Linked DNA regions of Homo sapiens: region 2 is linked to region 1. Evidence: fine-mapped expression QTL. A gene starts in region 1. The other region holds a variant in brackets. All regions are shown on one strand. Distances are between the middles of the regions.

What was found. PIP is the estimated chance that this variant, and not a neighbour inherited with it, causes the effect.
Region 2: its variant is fine-mapped to the expression of SCML2 in sigmoid colon (GTEx, PIP 0.94).

Annotation. Positions count from the first base shown.
Region 1 is chrX:18,351,228-18,359,570 of GRCh38, reverse strand. It overlaps SCML2 (Scm polycomb group protein like 2), which reads left to right and starts at 4,883. Exons shown (of 15, transcript NM_006089.3): 1 at 4,883-4,979. LOC124905253 (a long non-coding RNA gene) reads right to left here and starts at 4,390. Exons shown (of 2, transcript XR_007068403.1): 1 at 4,056-4,390; 2 at 685-922.
Region 2 is chrX:18,327,961-18,336,303 of GRCh38, reverse strand. It overlaps SCML2 (Scm polycomb group protein like 2), which reads left to right. Exons shown (of 15, transcript NM_006089.3): 2 at 2,209-2,254; 3 at 5,649-5,717. The coding sequence starts at 2,233. Among named protein-coding and RNA genes, the nearest start is that of SCML2, 23 kb to the left of the region's middle. The variant T/C (reference allele first, on the strand shown) is at 4,943.

The sequences.
Region 1 (8,343 bases):
TGCACCATCATGCCCAGCTAATTTTTGGATTATGTATGTATGTATGTATTTATTGTGTAGAGACGAGGTTTTGCCATATTGCCCAGGCTGGTCTCAAACTGCTGGGCTCAAGTGATCCACTTGCCTCGGTCTCCCAAAGTGCTAGGATTACAGGCATGAAAATCAAAATGATAAATGTTTTAGTGAAATGTCCAAAAGGCCAGTTGTCAGCTGGTCAACTCTAATTCCATTCATCTAGTTATACAAAAAATATAATATAGGTACATCTAAAAAGGTTCGATATGGGGAAGGGTGTGGTAATAGATCCTAGTTCCTCTGAAGATCTTAAAACATACGTCTATCTATCTCTGTCTCTCCTCTTTGGATGGGGTGTAAACTCCTGGAGTATTCAAACTGTCTTATTCATCCTGGTATTCTCACTTCTGGCAGAGTGGCACATAAGCATTCAATACATCACTGAATGAAGGACTGGCTGAATGTAATAATGGTCAAATGTAGCGTAGTGTTCACTGAGGTTATGTTAGTTTTCACAGCATATAAAACACTTGACTTGGCCAAAGTCAGCTTAGGTGTCATGCACTTTGTTGGTAAAAGGCTAATGTAATTTTACTTTTTTAAATGTGGGGATTTGTTAAGCAAAGACCATGTGGTTTTCTGATAGATTTGACTAGTATTTTCCCCATCTGTGAAGTAAATGTAGCAGATTTTATTATCCCCATTAAAAAAATTAAAACAATCTGAGGCATGGAAAGGTTCTAAAGAAATACAGTTAGTTAGTTGAGATAGACTAATGATAGACTTGAGATTCCAGACGAGAGACAGGGCCGGTCCTCCTTTTGCTAGAATACGATGCCTTCCTGTTAGACTAGCTTCTCTGTCTTCCTATTGCACTTCACTTCTTGATCTTTTTCCAGGGAAGTTACTATTTTGAAGTTAAAAGAAGAGGTTTATTGTAAGCAACCATAACAATACTGAAAACAATTTATATCTTACAGATATGTGCTCTTGGTTTAATGGGGAAAAAAGGGCAAATTGTTAGAAACAGGGATCTGAAGATATTTGTAAAGTCACTATTTTAAACAATCAGTTATTTAATACCCATTCTATGGATTTTTACACTAAGGTAAAAATATGAATAGTGGGTTTACTAGTTACAACTTGGAGCTCCAGTCTCTGCCAGGCTTAGTTAGGCTTCTGTGTTTTAGGGAGAAAGATGCCCATTTAGTAGGAAAACTAGAGGGAGTCTTCACTCATCCTAAAACGTTAACTTTATGTATGCAAATTACATTGTTTCTTTTTTTTTTTTTTCCGAGACGAAGTTTCGTTCTTGTTGCCCAGGCTGGAGTGCAGTGGCACGATCGCGGCTCACTGCAGCCTCCACCTCCCGGGTTCAAGCGATTCTCCTGCCTCAGACTCTCAAGTAGCTAGGATTACAGGCGCCCGCCACGCCACCTGGCTAATTTTTGTATTTTTAGTAGAGACTGGGTTTCGCCATGTTGGCCAGGCTGGTCTCAAACTCCTGACCTCAGGTGATCCACCTGCCTCGGCCTCCCAAAGTGGAGGGATTACAGGTGTGAGCCACCGCGCCTGGCCGATATTGTTTCAACATAAGCATGTGTACTGATGAAGATCTAGATTAAACTTGCTTATCTAGGGAAGATTATCTTTTCACTCTCACTAATATTGAACTCTAAAAAAGGTACAAAAGGAAGCAATAAAACACACTTGAAATACAGGAGTATTTTGCCCTGGACTTGGACTGGGTGGGGTGATGTGTTTTTTTGAAGGTTGTCACAGGTTTGGTGCCAAATCAGGAGAACTATAAGAGCAAATTCACAGGAGCAAATCTGAGGCTTGAAAAATAAATCATGAAAACTTGGATTTTACCAGCTTTAGTTCTTATTCTTTCAGTTCACAGTTTCTTTATTTTCATGTTTTCTAGGCAAAGTTAATCGAACATAATAACAGTAGGTATTCATTTATCCATTTATCTATTCACTCATTCAACAAATATTTACCAAATTCCTACTATGGGCAAGAGACTTACATATAATGTAAGAGAAACGGTGATGTTCCAACCTGTGTTAACATTATGAAAAAACTGTCTCAAATTTATTTTGGCAAAGGTGGAAAAGCAGGGTATAATAAAATAATTATTGAAAAGTTTATATACGTAGTGGATAAAAGCACAATTGATGACAAGGGTGGAAGGAATTATTAGGACATATTTGAATATATTAATATATTCAAAAGCTAACTGCCACTTATTTGCTGTGTATTAATTTATTTTCCTCATCTGTAAAATGGGAATGAGAGTACCTACCTCATAGGAAAGTTGTGAAAGAACATTGCAAATATTGGAAATTTATCTCTAAAGAGACTAGCGTGATTCTCAGCACATGCTCAATAAATGGTAGCTATTGTTATTATCGATAACTCAGATTTAATATAACGAAGAGTCACACATCTATAAATCCTTTGGTGAGGATAGTAACTGAGAAGATGTTCTAGGATAGATAATTCAAATTTCATTTTTAGAATAAGGGCTTCAGTAATTTCATGTTAACAGAAATATGAAAAATAGATTAGGCATCAGTGAGCCAGGCAATTCAGCAATCATAGTAGAATTCCTACAATTTAATAGAATCCATAGACGTAAAAAAGGTATGTGACAAGCCAAAGTAAATCTTTCTTTTTTTTTTGAGATGGAGTCCCAAATAAATCTTTCATACATAGAATGTAGAGATGAATTTCAAATATTTCCATTGCATTGGGATTAGAAGGACAGTGGCCACTAATTAAGAATTTATGTCCTCCTCAGCCCTGCTGGTGCCCATAATAAGGTTTGTTTAGATTAAACCTCTGTTTAATTTCTTTCTGTTAAAGATCTCCTTCTGGCTTTTTTTTTTTTTTTTTTTTTTTGAGACAGAATTTCGCTCTTGTTGCCCAGGCTGGAGTGCAATGGCGCGATCTCGGCTCACGGCAACCTCTGCTTCCCAGGTTCAAGCGATTCTCCTGCCTCAGCCTCCCGAATAGCTGGGATTACAGGCGCGTGCCACCACGCCCGGCTAATATTTTGTACTTTTAGTAGAGACAGGGTTTCTCCATGTTGGTCAGGCTGGTCTCCAACTCCCGACCTCAGGTGATCCACTCGCCTCGGCCTCCCAAAGTGCTGGGATTACAGGCGTGAGCCACCGCGTCCGGCCTCTTTCTGGCTTTTGAAAACATGTTTGGGCCGGGCGTAGTGGCTCACGCGTGTAATCCCAGCACTTTGGGAGGCAGAGGCGGGTGGATCATGAGGTCGGGAGATCGAGACCATCCTGGCTAACACGATGAAACCCCGTCTCTACTAAAAATACAAAAAATTAGCCGGGCCTAGTGGCACGCGACTGTAGTCCCAGCTACTCAGGAGGCTGAGGCAGGAGAATCGCTTGAACCCGGGAGGCGGAGGTTGCAGTGAGCCGAGATCGTGCCACTGCTCTCCAGCCTGGGCGACAAAACGAGACTCTTGTCTCAAAAAACATGCTTGAACCTTCATCTTAGGACACTCCAACATTTTCTCCTATGTGATATACATTATAGAATTGATAGGACCAAATCTCACTTTAATATTTGCATATCATCAACCTAGTCTTTCTATTTTCGCCTTAAAGTTTACTTGAATTTGGCATTAACATTTAGGTTTTCATTTTTAAAGCATTAAATAATAGATCCATTTGATTCTGTGCCACTTGCCAATGTTTAGATATAATAAACACTTTGACTTTTGCTTAATACTGCAGAAGCTGCAACTGGAAAATTCTATCCTGCGTTGTAGACAATGGATATATTCCACAGGAGTTTTTTGTTCTCAGTTTTAAGCTCTGATTTCCAAATCATGATTTAAAAAGTATATCATGCCCTCTGCACTAAGTTAGGTGATCACAGATGCAAAACCTACATCCAGCTTTGGAAAGAGTTCCAGAGAGAGAAGCCCTAGCAATGGTTTGTTTTTGGCTAACATAGCACATTGTATTATTTTTCAAACAAAAGTTTGAAATCAGCTTATACCTAACCTGAGAACGAGGGACAGATGTTTTTCTCCGGCGTTCTGTTTGCTGTAATTTGTGCTGAGAGATTCACTGGTCGTTTTAAAGCTGTTTTTACGCCCCCTCCTTTGTGCGACCTCCACTTGCGCTATGGGCCTTGCCCGGTGGGAAAGGGAGCGTGCAGAAGGGACCCCAAAACGCACTCTCGGGGATGCTCCTGAGTCAGTAAGCAAGTGATTTCCCCCTGCGGGTTCATCTAGTTCCCGTTAGCTCAACCCCGGGTTTAGAGGAAGAACGAAATCCAGAGAGTGAAGCTGGGAGGTGAATGCGTGGCAAAAACTCATGGAAAAAAAAAAAAAAAGCAGTTTCAAGGACTATGCTGCAACCCGCCAAGCAGTGGCTTTCCTCAAGCTGCTGTAACCAGCTGCTTCTCCCTGCTCCTCGAACTTGCTTGAGTTCCGAGGGAAGCGCCTGCTTTTTGGGTGCGTGGCCAGGGTGGGTGGTGGCCAGGATTCGAAGGCGACAGTGAAGGGGAGCGAGTTCCCGGGATGGAACTTGACGTGGAACCCGGGGTCCCATCGAGGGGCTCCCCACGGCCTCGGGTGCTTGGGCTGCGACTGGTTTTTCATTTGGCGTAGGCGTGGGGGGTAGGAGGCAAAGTGCCAAGGGCTTTCCCGGGCTCACAGTGTCTCATGGTCCGCCACTGCCTGCGGTGGCGCTCGGCTTGACCCCGGCTCGGGCCCCGCACGCGGCGGCGGTCAAAGGGCGTGCTCGCGGCAACCGCAGGGCACGCGGGCCGGCCGCGCGGGGGGCGGGGCGGCAGTGGCGGTTGCGGGGCATGCGCGGCTCCGCGCGCGGCTTCTCAAACATGGCGGCGGCGGTGTGAAGCTCGGTGCCGGCTCGCGCGATCGGTGGGACAGAATTTCGTTGTTTTCACCGACGAGACTGGAGGTACGTGGTGATTCCGGGCCCCGTAAGGAATGGAGAGGCGGAGGTGTGTCCCGGACCCCGACCGTTGTCCGTGGGCGGGCGGGTAGAAGCCATCAGCGCGCGTCCCGTGCGAGGAACGCCCCCTTACGATCCCGCCTATGTCCCATCTCAGTTCGGCTTCGCGATAGGGTATCCCGCCCCCGGCGCCTTCCGCGGACGCCCTTCAGCCGATCTCGCGTTTCCCCTCACGCCGCCCCGGGGCCTTTTCGCCGCCGCGGGGTTTGGGCGCCCGGCCGATAGCTTCCACCCGTCCCCTCGCCTGCAGCGCCGACAGCGCCCTCCGGCGCATCCTCCCTGCCGTGGGTAGGGCCGGGCTGGGGCCTGGGGGGCATCACGGTGGGTGGCGGGGCGGAGGAAGGAGGTAGACTTTGCCTGGTCTGGGCTGAGATAACTTTTGGAGTTTGGGAGGGAAACGTCGGCCCGGAAGGATGCGCCTGTGGCGGCGTGCGGGCGCAAATCCTGGTGCCAAGGTGCGCGCCGCCGGGCTCCTGGCGGGGGCTGGGGGCGCCGGTGGCTCACCCTAGCGGTGCAGCGGGACCGGAATGCGCGTCCCGTCCGGGGCTGGCGGGGAGGCGAGGAGGGGCTCTAAGCCTCCTGAGGGGCGGAGAGGCGGCCTCGCGGCCTGACCGAAAAAAAGTTGCTGCCGTCACTTAGAAACAGTCTCGAAATGGTTTCTTACCTTTCTCGCTTTTTCCACCTGTATCGTGCTTGCGCCCCATCCAGGTGTGAAGAGCCGGAGGGAGAATGGGTCTAGGCGAATTTGCTCGATTTTGCGCCTCAAGGTTGTACATAGATAGCTTCCTGGGCCGACTTGTAATTCGGCTCCCCCAAACCCCAAATGTTTGGGCAGCACAAGTATTTACTTACAGGCTCCCATTTGAGACTATTTATTTTTTAAAAAGAGGTTGTTAAACATTTGTCAAGCATCACAAAGTGTGATTGCAACTTGAAATTTGCTTCTTGTTTGTAAATTAGGAGATTAACGTTTATGACTTACTTTAGGTCTTCTCTGGAAAGTTAATGGATCGATTAGTGGGGGTAAACTGAGGCAGGGAAAGTGAATAAGTTGCTTATGATCATATGATTTACAAAAGTATTGGAGATAGTTGTTTTTTTCCCTAAAACAGCTTCAGATGCTGCTACATTTTAATGCCCCCAGAGCTATTCATATTTCTGTTTTGAGGGAAAAGTATTTTAAGATGTACAACATTTATGGAGTACAGCTGCCTATGATGAGCAATTGTTTTATAACAATGGTTCATAAACGCATATTTAATTCTTTTCAATAACAGCGAGGGAAATGTTTTTCAATAATGACGATTTTGCCTTTCTTTTATTTTTCTTAATTACTCATTAAATAAAATATTTCCAATTACGAATGTGCTTTCAGGCTGTTTGTGTGTTTTTTTTTTTTTTTTCTATTTAATGGGAGGAATGTGAAAATAAGCTTTTGGAAATGAATCCAGTGGGATTTTTGAGAAAAGATTGAGTTTATGAGTATTCACCTGATGCCTTGTGTTTAGCTTTATCTATAACCTTTAAAACAGTTTGATAGAATGTAAAGAAAAAACACCATTTAAACTGGCTTTGAAAGTTTTGAATGAACTTTATATATACATCATGCAGCCATATGAACTTCTTAAGGATGTATACTTGTTTACCCCAGAGAACCTGATTTGCTTTGGAATTGGTAGTTGGAAAAAAGATTACTGTAACTCTACTGCATTATATGTGCGGGTGCTTTAAAGTTGATAGTGTCATAACGTTCAAAAATCATTACAGTCAGTCTAAAAAAGGTGTATCAGTTTTTCTCATGAGGTGGTTGATCAGTCCTTTTGATTTATGATTCCATCAACACATCTTTATTAAGCACCTGTGCTGTCTTTACTATGGAGTTCAGTTTATTCAGAGCCCACTACGTGTGCTAATTTCAGGGTGTTTAAGGCTTTCCACCCATAGTTTATTCCTGAAAATTTCAGGGAGTTATAGCTAAAAAAATCAATACGAATGTAGAACAAGTATTCCTTTCATTCAAAGGGCGAACTCGAGAAGTCAGTATTTTTGTCATAATTCTCCAAACAAAATTCTGAGTGTAGCTGCAAACTATTTCTGACTTACGTGATGTTAACTTTGTGATTTTTTGGTTAGGATTATATAAAGCTATATATTTTCATGAGATTATTTTCTGGTTCAAATAGATAACATACTGGTTAAGCTTGAGGGGAAAAATGAGTTGCTGGTATAAATGGAAATCAATATGTGCTCTGAAGATTGGGTATTTTTTAATACTAAGCAATTTCTATTACTAAGTAGTTTAAGCTGTAATTAAGTTTTAACTGGTATTTTAAAGCACTTTGTTTTTTCAAAATGTTGCAGAAATCTCTGAGCTCAGAAATAACAAATAAGGGTTATGATCCTCAGCTATAAGCCAGATGTGACTCTTATTTTCTTTTGGGCTTGTTCCTTTTTAGCTGCCTGCCTGTTCCTCCCAGATGCTTCCTATCACCCCTCTTCCTGCCCCTGTTCCCTTTGCTGTTGGTGTCTGTTTCCGCATCAGTGAAATGGTCAGGGTAATCCTTTGCTGCTTCACTGAGAAATAATTAATGATGGTAAAGTGCCTTGAAAAGGCTGAGTAAATACCAAGTCTTTTGAATTAACTTGATGTAGCCACTTGTTCCATTTAAGGAAGAGCCAAATCCCAATTTTAGTTTGAGCTCTTGGGGGTGCGAGAGAAAAGTTTCACTTGACTATTTTACTGCCTTTCTTTTGGGGTTAATAGCAATGACTTTTGTAACTCTAGTAACTGGAACACGGGTGGATACAGCAGTATCCTCTGCTGTTTGCCTTATTAGTCACCTCTAGTCTTTTTTTTTTTTTTGCCTGGTTATTCTGTCTGCCATTTTTCTCCCTCTATTCTCATTCCACTTGTGAATGGAAATCGGAGGTCCTCTCTATTAGCTACCCTCTCGGGGTGGGGAGGGTAGGTCTCACTGTCTCCTCATAGTCATATTCCTGATTTTTAGGATATACAAGAACAAAGTGGGCTCTGCCAGCTATCAGCCTTAGAGCTATGAGCTGTGGTGCAAAGATTAGTCTGTCATTGCCAGAAGGTGTTTTGTAGTTTGCAGTGGGCAAATCAAGCATCCCTAATAATTTTAGAACCATTATTAATGTCTGAGAATTACTACATAATACCTTAGAATTTGAACTGATTGTTGATTCCAGGAACTAAAAACCTGGACATTTTGAAAATGGCAAATGTTGGTGATGTTTTTTTTTTTTTGAGATGGGCTCTCGCTGTGTTGCCCAGGCTGTAGTGCAGTGG
Region 2 (8,343 bases), 23 kb after region 1:
CCACGCCCAGCTAATTTTTGTATTTTTAGTAGAGACGGGGTTTCACCATGTTGGCCAGGATGGTCTCGATCTCTTGACTTCATGATCTGCCTCGGCCTCCCAAAGTGCTGGGATTGCAGGCATGAGCCACCATGCCCGCCAATGGGATCATTCTTTTAAAAATATTTTTCTTTTTCCCATTGGATTACCTTGTTCCCTGAGTTGAAAATCAATTGACCAAATATTTGTGGGTCTATTTCCGGACTGCCTAGCCTGTTTCCACTGATCTAATTTGTATATCCTATGCCAATGTCACACAGTTTTGAATACCGTTGCCTTATACTATGTCTTGAAATAAGATGATGTAAATTCTCCATCTTTGTTCTTTTTGAAGATTGTTTTAGCTATTCTAATCTTCTCCATTTTCAAAAATATAAATTTTAGAATCAGCATATTTCTCTGAAGACCCTATGAGGATTTTGATGATCAGTTTGTTGGTTCTGCAGATTAATTTGGGGAGAATTGACATCTTAAGAATATTGAGTCTTCCAGCTTGTGAATATGGTGATTTATTTAGGTTTTCTTCAAGTATGTATTTTCGATCATCTGTATACGTATTTTCACTCCTTCCAGGATTACAAAAATAACTTATTCAGCCAATGGAAGCAATTGCTACCAGCTGAGTTAAGCATTCAGCTATGGGTTAGATATTTGAGAGAACATGGGAACCTGGTTATATCTTCTGTGTGTGACCCATCCCTCAGTTTATTGGACTGAATTCATTTGTATAGTAATAAGACTATTTATTTATTTATTTTTTTGAGGCAGGGTCTCACTCTGACTCCCAGGGTGGAGTACAGTGGCACAATCACAGCTTACTGCAGCCTGGATTTCCCGGGCTCAGGTGATTTTCCCACCTCAGCCTCCTGAATAGCTGAGACTACAGGCATGTACCACCACACCTGGCTAATTTTTAAATTTTTTGTAGAGATAGAGTTTCACCATGTTGCCCAGGCTGGTCTCGAACCCCTGGGCTCAAGTGATCCACCCACCTCGGCTTCCCAAAGTGCTGGGATTACAGGCATGAGCCACTGTGCCCAGCCTGATAAGACTCATTTTAATGTAATTCACAGGTTTTTGCTCTTTGATGAGAGTCGGTAAGTACCTTCACTTACTACCTGGATTACAGTGCTTTATCATCTGTGTGGATTCAACACCCCGTATATATTTTACTTTCTTGTCTGTTTCTTTAGCCACTGGGCTATAGTCTTTAATTGATCAGTGTCTCTGATGCTGAGTGTCCCAGGCTGATCTTGAACTGCTGGGCTCAAGAAATCCACCCGCCTTGGCCTCCCAAAGTGCTAGGATTACAGGCATGAGCCACTGCACCCAGCCTATGAATGTATTCTTCATAGGTTTACTTTAAGTGCCAGATTACCTTCAGTTATACACATCATCATGTTCTTATTACAGGCACATGGAGTAATGGCGGGATAGATAGCCTTTTGCCATATTAGGTTTATCCATGTACATATTTTTTTATAGCACTTATATTGTGTTTTGTTCATATGCTTATTTCTGACTAGACTGGGGTCTTGGAGGCCAAGGACAGCCTGTTATTTATCTTTGCTGCAGAATGTCTGGCATATTGAGGACATGCAGGAAAAGTTTGAATTAATGAATTATAGCTCAAAATACACAAGGCTTCTAACAAATAATTCTTGTTAGACTTGACTCTTGCAGTTCTTACAGGTTTTCCCAACACGGTCATAATTCTTGTACCTCTTGGCAACATGATGTAGCAGAAGTGGGCTTCCTGGAATAGGCCTCAGTTTGAATCCTAACTTTGCTAACCTACCAACTGTTCTTTTTTACTCAATTAATTTTAAAAATTGAGTCAAAATTTGCATACCATAAAACTCACCCTTTTAAGGTATACAATTCAATGATTTTTAGTATTTTCACAACAAGGCGTATAACCATCACCACTATCTAATTCTAGGACACTTTCATTATCCCACAAAGGAAACTTCATACCCATATTCATGCCCCTTAGCAGTCACTCCTCAATTCCTTCTTCCTCCATTCCCAGGCAACTAGGCATATACAAATCTTATCATTTTTGTTTAAGGGAAACAGATTAAATTGATCTGGCCTTATAACTGACTTCTTATCCTTCAGAAATCTAATATGCTAAAAGGAGGCATTAATTGGTTTTTCTCCTTGTAGGAAACAACACCAAATAGGGATACCATGGGACAAACAGTGAATGAAGGTAAGATTTACTTGTTAAAGGCAATAATGTTTTTAGTTACTCATTTGGAATGAATATCTTCTGGTATACTGAACTTTTGAAATAAAGCCTTTAAAAAATAAATTTATAGGAGATGCTAGGTGCTTAGAATTTGAATTTTAGAACTGAATAGCTATTAAAGGTCATTGTCTTTCCTTGCTAGTTATATAAATGAGAAAACTGAAACTTAGAGAGGTTAAGGTCATACAACAGTTTGTGACAAAGCCAAGATTAGAATCCAAAGAGTGATTAAAAAATGTTTCATCCTGTTTTGCTCTATGAGAAGTCTGCTCACTATTCCATGAATATGCCACACTCATTTGCAGTCAGCTTTGTGTTGTATCTTCCTTCCCATAATACATTCTTTACATATTGGCCTTCCTACATCCTGTTTCTCCTTCAAGCGCTGTATCTCTCATGACTTTTCCTCTGGCTGAATGCTGAGTACTAAATGCTGTTCTCTAATTTTAAGTGTATCAGTTTAGTGTAGTCTCTTGACTAGATTCTTAGCTTCTCTAGAAGCTAAGCATGCCTTTACAGTTTTACTTTGTTTTCTTTTAGAAAAATCCTTCTGTAGAACTATTTAGTAAATACAAATTTGTACGTTCTTTGTACAGATTCAAGTTTGGCTTTTTGGTGAGAGAGGAGAGGATAAGATGACTTCATAAGTGGTGTTGTGTATTTCTCACAGGAGACTCCTAATATCTAGTTATCTCTCTCTGTCTTTTTTTAAATTTTTATTTTTATTTTTTTTTGAGACAGGGTTTTGCTCTGTTGTCCAGGCTGGAGGGCAGTGGCACGATCATGGCTCATTGCAATCTCTGCCTCCTGGGCTTAAGTGATCCTCTTGCCTTAGCCTCCTGAGAGGCTGGGGCCACAGACGTGAGCTACCACACCTGGCTAATTTTTTGTATTTTTAGTAGAGACAGGGTTTTGCCATGTTGGCCAGGCTGCTTTCGAACTCCTGACCTCAAGTGATCTTCCCGCCTCGGCCTCTCAAAGTGCTGGGATTACAGGCATGAACCAACGTGCCTGGCCTTTTTTTAAAAAATATTTTTTTACAGAGATGAAATTACTCAGACTAGAGTGCAGTGGCGTAATCATAGCTTACTGTAACCCCAAACTCCTGGGCTCAAGTGATCCTCCTGCCTTGGCCTCCCAAGCAGGTGAGGCTGCAGATGTGTGCCACCACACCTGGCTAATTTTTTAAAAAAATTTTTGTGGAGACTGGGTCTTGCTGTGTTGCTCAGGTTGGCCTCAAACTCCTGGCCTCAAGTGATCCTCCCTCCTTGGCCTCCCAAAGTGGTGGGATTACAGGTGTGAGCTGTCACATCCAACCTAGTTATCTCTTTTTGTGATGTGAAAAATCACAAAAAGTCATGGATGGCTATTCCCTGGATCCATTCATTTATTAGTAGTTGTAAAATGAAGGTATTCTATCATTCTTTATTGGCCAAAAAATTTCTATATAGAGAAACTACCTTTCTTCAACCACTCAGTTGAAATCATTTAAACAGAAAGCAGCTCATATATCCCTCTCAAGTGTTCACACATCTTGAAGAGTCACTCAGTCATAACTAGTAAGTAGATCTGTTACGTTGAATGGCATCATTCTTAGATCCTTCTTTAAGAAGTTTGTCACTTGACAATTAGAACATCGGTAAGGGTAAAATAGCAACACAAGTATGTTTAAATCCATGAGTTCATAATGATAATAAAAAGCAAAACAAATAAAACTTACTGGTCATCTGTGGAGAATGCTAGAGATCCAGCTCATCACTTTGAAAACTAGAAATACAGGAAAATAATAAAGTGCTGATTGTGATTTCTCTATGTGATCCGTGCCTTAAGGTAACTGAATGGTTGAAGCATGGAAGCTTCTCTCTATAGAAGTTTTCTGGCTAATAAAGAATGATAGAATTAGAATACCTTCATTTTGCAACCATTAATAAACGAAAGGATCTAGGCAATAGCCATCCACGACTGTTCACATCACGAAAAGAGAGATAACTAGATATTAGGAGCCTCCTGTGAGAAATACACAACACCACCTATGAAGTCATCTTATCCTCTCCTCTCCCACCAAAAAGCCAATCTTAAATCTGACCAAACTCTTCTGGATTGAAATATGAATGCCAATTTAAAGAAAATACAAGAAACAGAGGAACCGAACTCTGTGGGGAGGTAGTCAGCAAAATCCAGACTGGAAAACTTGAAAGGACCAACCAACTGGTATTGTCAGCAAAAAAATTGTAAAGGGGAAGAATAAAAACGAGAAGAAAGGAGGAAGACACCTGTAGATCAAAAGAGATGTAAGAGACATATCAACCATTGCTATGTGTGTGGACTTATTTGGGTTCTGAATCAAGCATACACACTAAAAATAGTTAAGACAATTGGGGAACACTGGTTATTTGATGATTTTAAGGAATTATGGTTAATTTTTTTAGATGTAATAGAAATATTATGCTTAAGTTTTTAAAAATGAGTCCTTTTAGAGATACATACTATAATACATGTGGATGAAATGATACATCTTAGATTTGGTGAGGTTACCAGGTCCAGTGTTATTTGAGCTCTTTAGCTTAGCACCAAGAAAATCTCTGCCCAGTCCATTGAATTACAGTGTATTGTAGCTTCTCTGTTATGTTTTGAACTCTCAAAAGCATC[T/C]GTTTTATTTCTAGGACATGTTAATTTAAACATTGTAAAGATCAGCTCATTTTGATTTATTGATGCACTGATTTTTTTTTTTTTTTTTTTTTTTTTTTTTTTGAGACGGAGTCTCGCTCTGTCACCCAGGCTGGAGTGCAATGGCACGATCTCAGCTCACTGCAACCTCTGCCTCCCGGGTTCAAGTGATTCTCTTGTCTCAGCTGCCCGAGTAGCTGGGATTACAGGTGCCCGCCACCATGCCTGGCTAATTTTTTCTATTTTTAGGAGAGACAGGGTTTCGCATGTTGGCCTGGCTGGTCTCAAACTCGTGACCTCATGTGATCTGCCTGCCTTGGCCTCCTCAAGTGCTGGAATTACAGGCGTGAGCCACCACGCCTGGCCTGATGCATTGATTTAACAAATGCTTGAGAGTGTTGCGATGCCAGGTCCTGTTTTAGGCGCTTGAGGATACCACAGTGAATGAGATAGACAATAAAATAAATAAATCTCTGCCCTTTTGGAGATTTCATTTGAGTAGAGTGAGACAATAAATGAGCAGATTATAAAATGCATAGTACATTAGAAAATGGTAAGTCCTACATAGAAAATGAAGATATTATAAAACTAAAATTGGCTCTTTAAAGTTTTTTAATTTATATTTTTCTGAGTGCTCTTTCAAGCTGTTGCTGTGGACTCCCAGTATTGCTATTTTCTTTTTTATTAGATTCCATGGATGTCAAGAAGGAGAATCAAGAGAAAACTCCTCAGTCAAGTACATCTTCTGTACAAAGGGGTAGGTTTTAAAGTAATTTAATACAGCATAGTTTTCTTCCTCACTAGTGTTAAAATTAACTTTAAGTGCAAATTTTCTTATTGTTTTGATTTCTTATTGTACAGTCTGTATACTGTAAACTTCTGTAAATACAAAATGTAATAAGAAAGGTCAAAAATTGTATTTTATTTTGAAAATTTTACTTAGAGATAAGTTGACACGGATTAAGTAAAAGGGTAACTTTGTATATTTCAGTGCAAATTTTCCTAAATTATAGGTATCTAGTTATTAATTGCCATGTATTACCAATTTAAAATAATTTGGTTATTAGCAAAAACCCTTCTAACGTTACAGTCAATGTGAAAGCTTTTTTTTCATGGTCAGAAGACAGTTCAGTGGTTAAGAGCTTATAGGCATTGTGGTGAGTCCGACAGATGTGTTCTGGAATTCTGTCCTCACTCCTTACTGGCCATGGTGACCTTGGGCACATTACTCAACAGCTCTTAGACGTTTTTTCTTCTTCTTTCTTTGAGACAGAGTCTCGCTGTGTCACCCAGGCTGGAGTGCAGTGGTGTGATCTTGGCTCACTGCAACCTCCACCTTCCGGGTTCAAGCGATTTTTGTGCCTCAGCCTCCCGAGTAGCTGGGACTACAGGCATGCACCACCACGCCTGGCTAGTTTTTGTATTTTTAGTAGACATGGGGTTTCACTGTGCTGGCTAGGCTGGTCTCAAACCTCTGACCTCAGGTGATCCACTTGCCTCAACCTCCCAAAATGCTGGGATTACAGGCGTGAGCCACTGTGCCCGGCTCTTTTTTCTTCTTTATAACACAGGGATAATGATAGTACTTATCTCATGGCACTACTGGAAATAAATAGAGGAAATGAATTTAAAGCACCTAATATAATGCCTAGGCATATAGTAAGTGTTCAGTAAATGTTAACTTTATTAATTCATGTTCCTTATTATGAACAGTACATGTATAATATTGCATCAGAGACACTCAGGAGATGTAATAGAATCTGATGCATTGGCTTGCTCTTAAATGAGAAAATAAGTCATATGTACACAAAAGGCATTAAAAAATAACGTAGCAAACTATTGTTTTACCAGACATTTCCAGAGATTTCTTGCCCCTTGTGTTTCTGTTGTATCTGCCCTGCCAGCCCCAGTGCAGAGCAGTTCACCCTATGACCTTCTGTTCCTACTTGAAGATTGCCTATAGAGGTAATCCCCACGGAATTGTTGTTCTCTCACTGTAGCTGGGCCCTCAGTGCTCCCTTAACTTTCTTTACCATGGCCTTATTTGTTCTTCAACTCTTCCCTGGGACCCCCAAATCCTCTGAGGAAATGGAGGCCATTGAATTAGACTGTTCCTTATCCCTACAAACTCCTCTCCATCTGTTTTTAAAAATATAACAGCTTTACTGAGTTATAATTCAAATATCATATAATTCACCTATTTAGAGTGCACAATTCAATGGTTTTCAGTATGTTCACAGAGTTGTGCAACCACCACCACAGTCAATTTTAGAACATTTTTATCCCCCTAAAAAGAAATCCTGTACCCATTAACAGTACTCCCCATTTCTCCCTAGTGCCTCCTGTCTCCCCCAGCTCTAGGCAAACACAGGTCTACTTTCTGCCTCTATAGATTTTCCCATTCTAGACATTTAATTAAAAAAATAGATTACTTAAGTTGATAGCCATCTGCAGATACTTCTCAGGCCTGGGCCCTAACATCCTATTTTAGAAATCAGTGAGTGACTACCAGAAGGTAAGCTCCAAGAGAGCCAGGGTTTTAATCTGTTTTATTAACTCATGCATCTGCAGTACCTAGGACAGTGCCTGGCACATGCTGATGACCTGCTATGGGAATCCAGTTACGAACAATATAGACATGATTCCTGCCCTCTTTTATTGACTGACTGATTGAGACAAGGTTTTACTCTGTCATGCAGGCCAGAGTGCAGTGGCATGATCATGGCTCATTGCAGCTTTGACCTTCTGGTCTCAAGTGATCCTCTCACTTCAGCCTCCCGAGTATGTGGGACCACAGGCGTGCACTACCATGCCTGGCAATTTTTAACAATTTTTTGTAGAGACGGGGTCTCTCTGTGTTTCCCAGGCTGGTATTGAACTCCTGGGCTCAAGCGATCTGCCCGCCTCAGCCTCCCAAAGTGCTGGTATTACAGGTGTGAGCCACTGCACCCAGCCTCTTACCCTCTTTGAGCTTAGTGGGCAAGATAGAAATTAACAGATGCCTAATTGTAGTTGTGATAAATGCTGTGAATTAGTGGATGCTGATCATTCAGCTGAGAAACTTCTATCTCTAGGTATTTTGCCCATCTTCACATAGCAAGGGATCCCAAGGATAGCACTGGTGGAAGACATGATTCTGATTTACTCTAGAGAAGACCAGGGGAGCTCATATGGGTTATATTCAGTACAAAAAGATGTTGGAGCTAATGTGTAGACTAGAATAGAGTACAAATAAAAAAAGAAGAGACCATGGGCACATGTGAATAACAATCAGATCACAAGGAGATATATATATAAAATCATATCAGTTCCCAGGCCTCTCTTCTGAGATAGAATACTGCCCCCATCCCCAGTCTGTCAATGAAGACATGATGCAGAGGCAG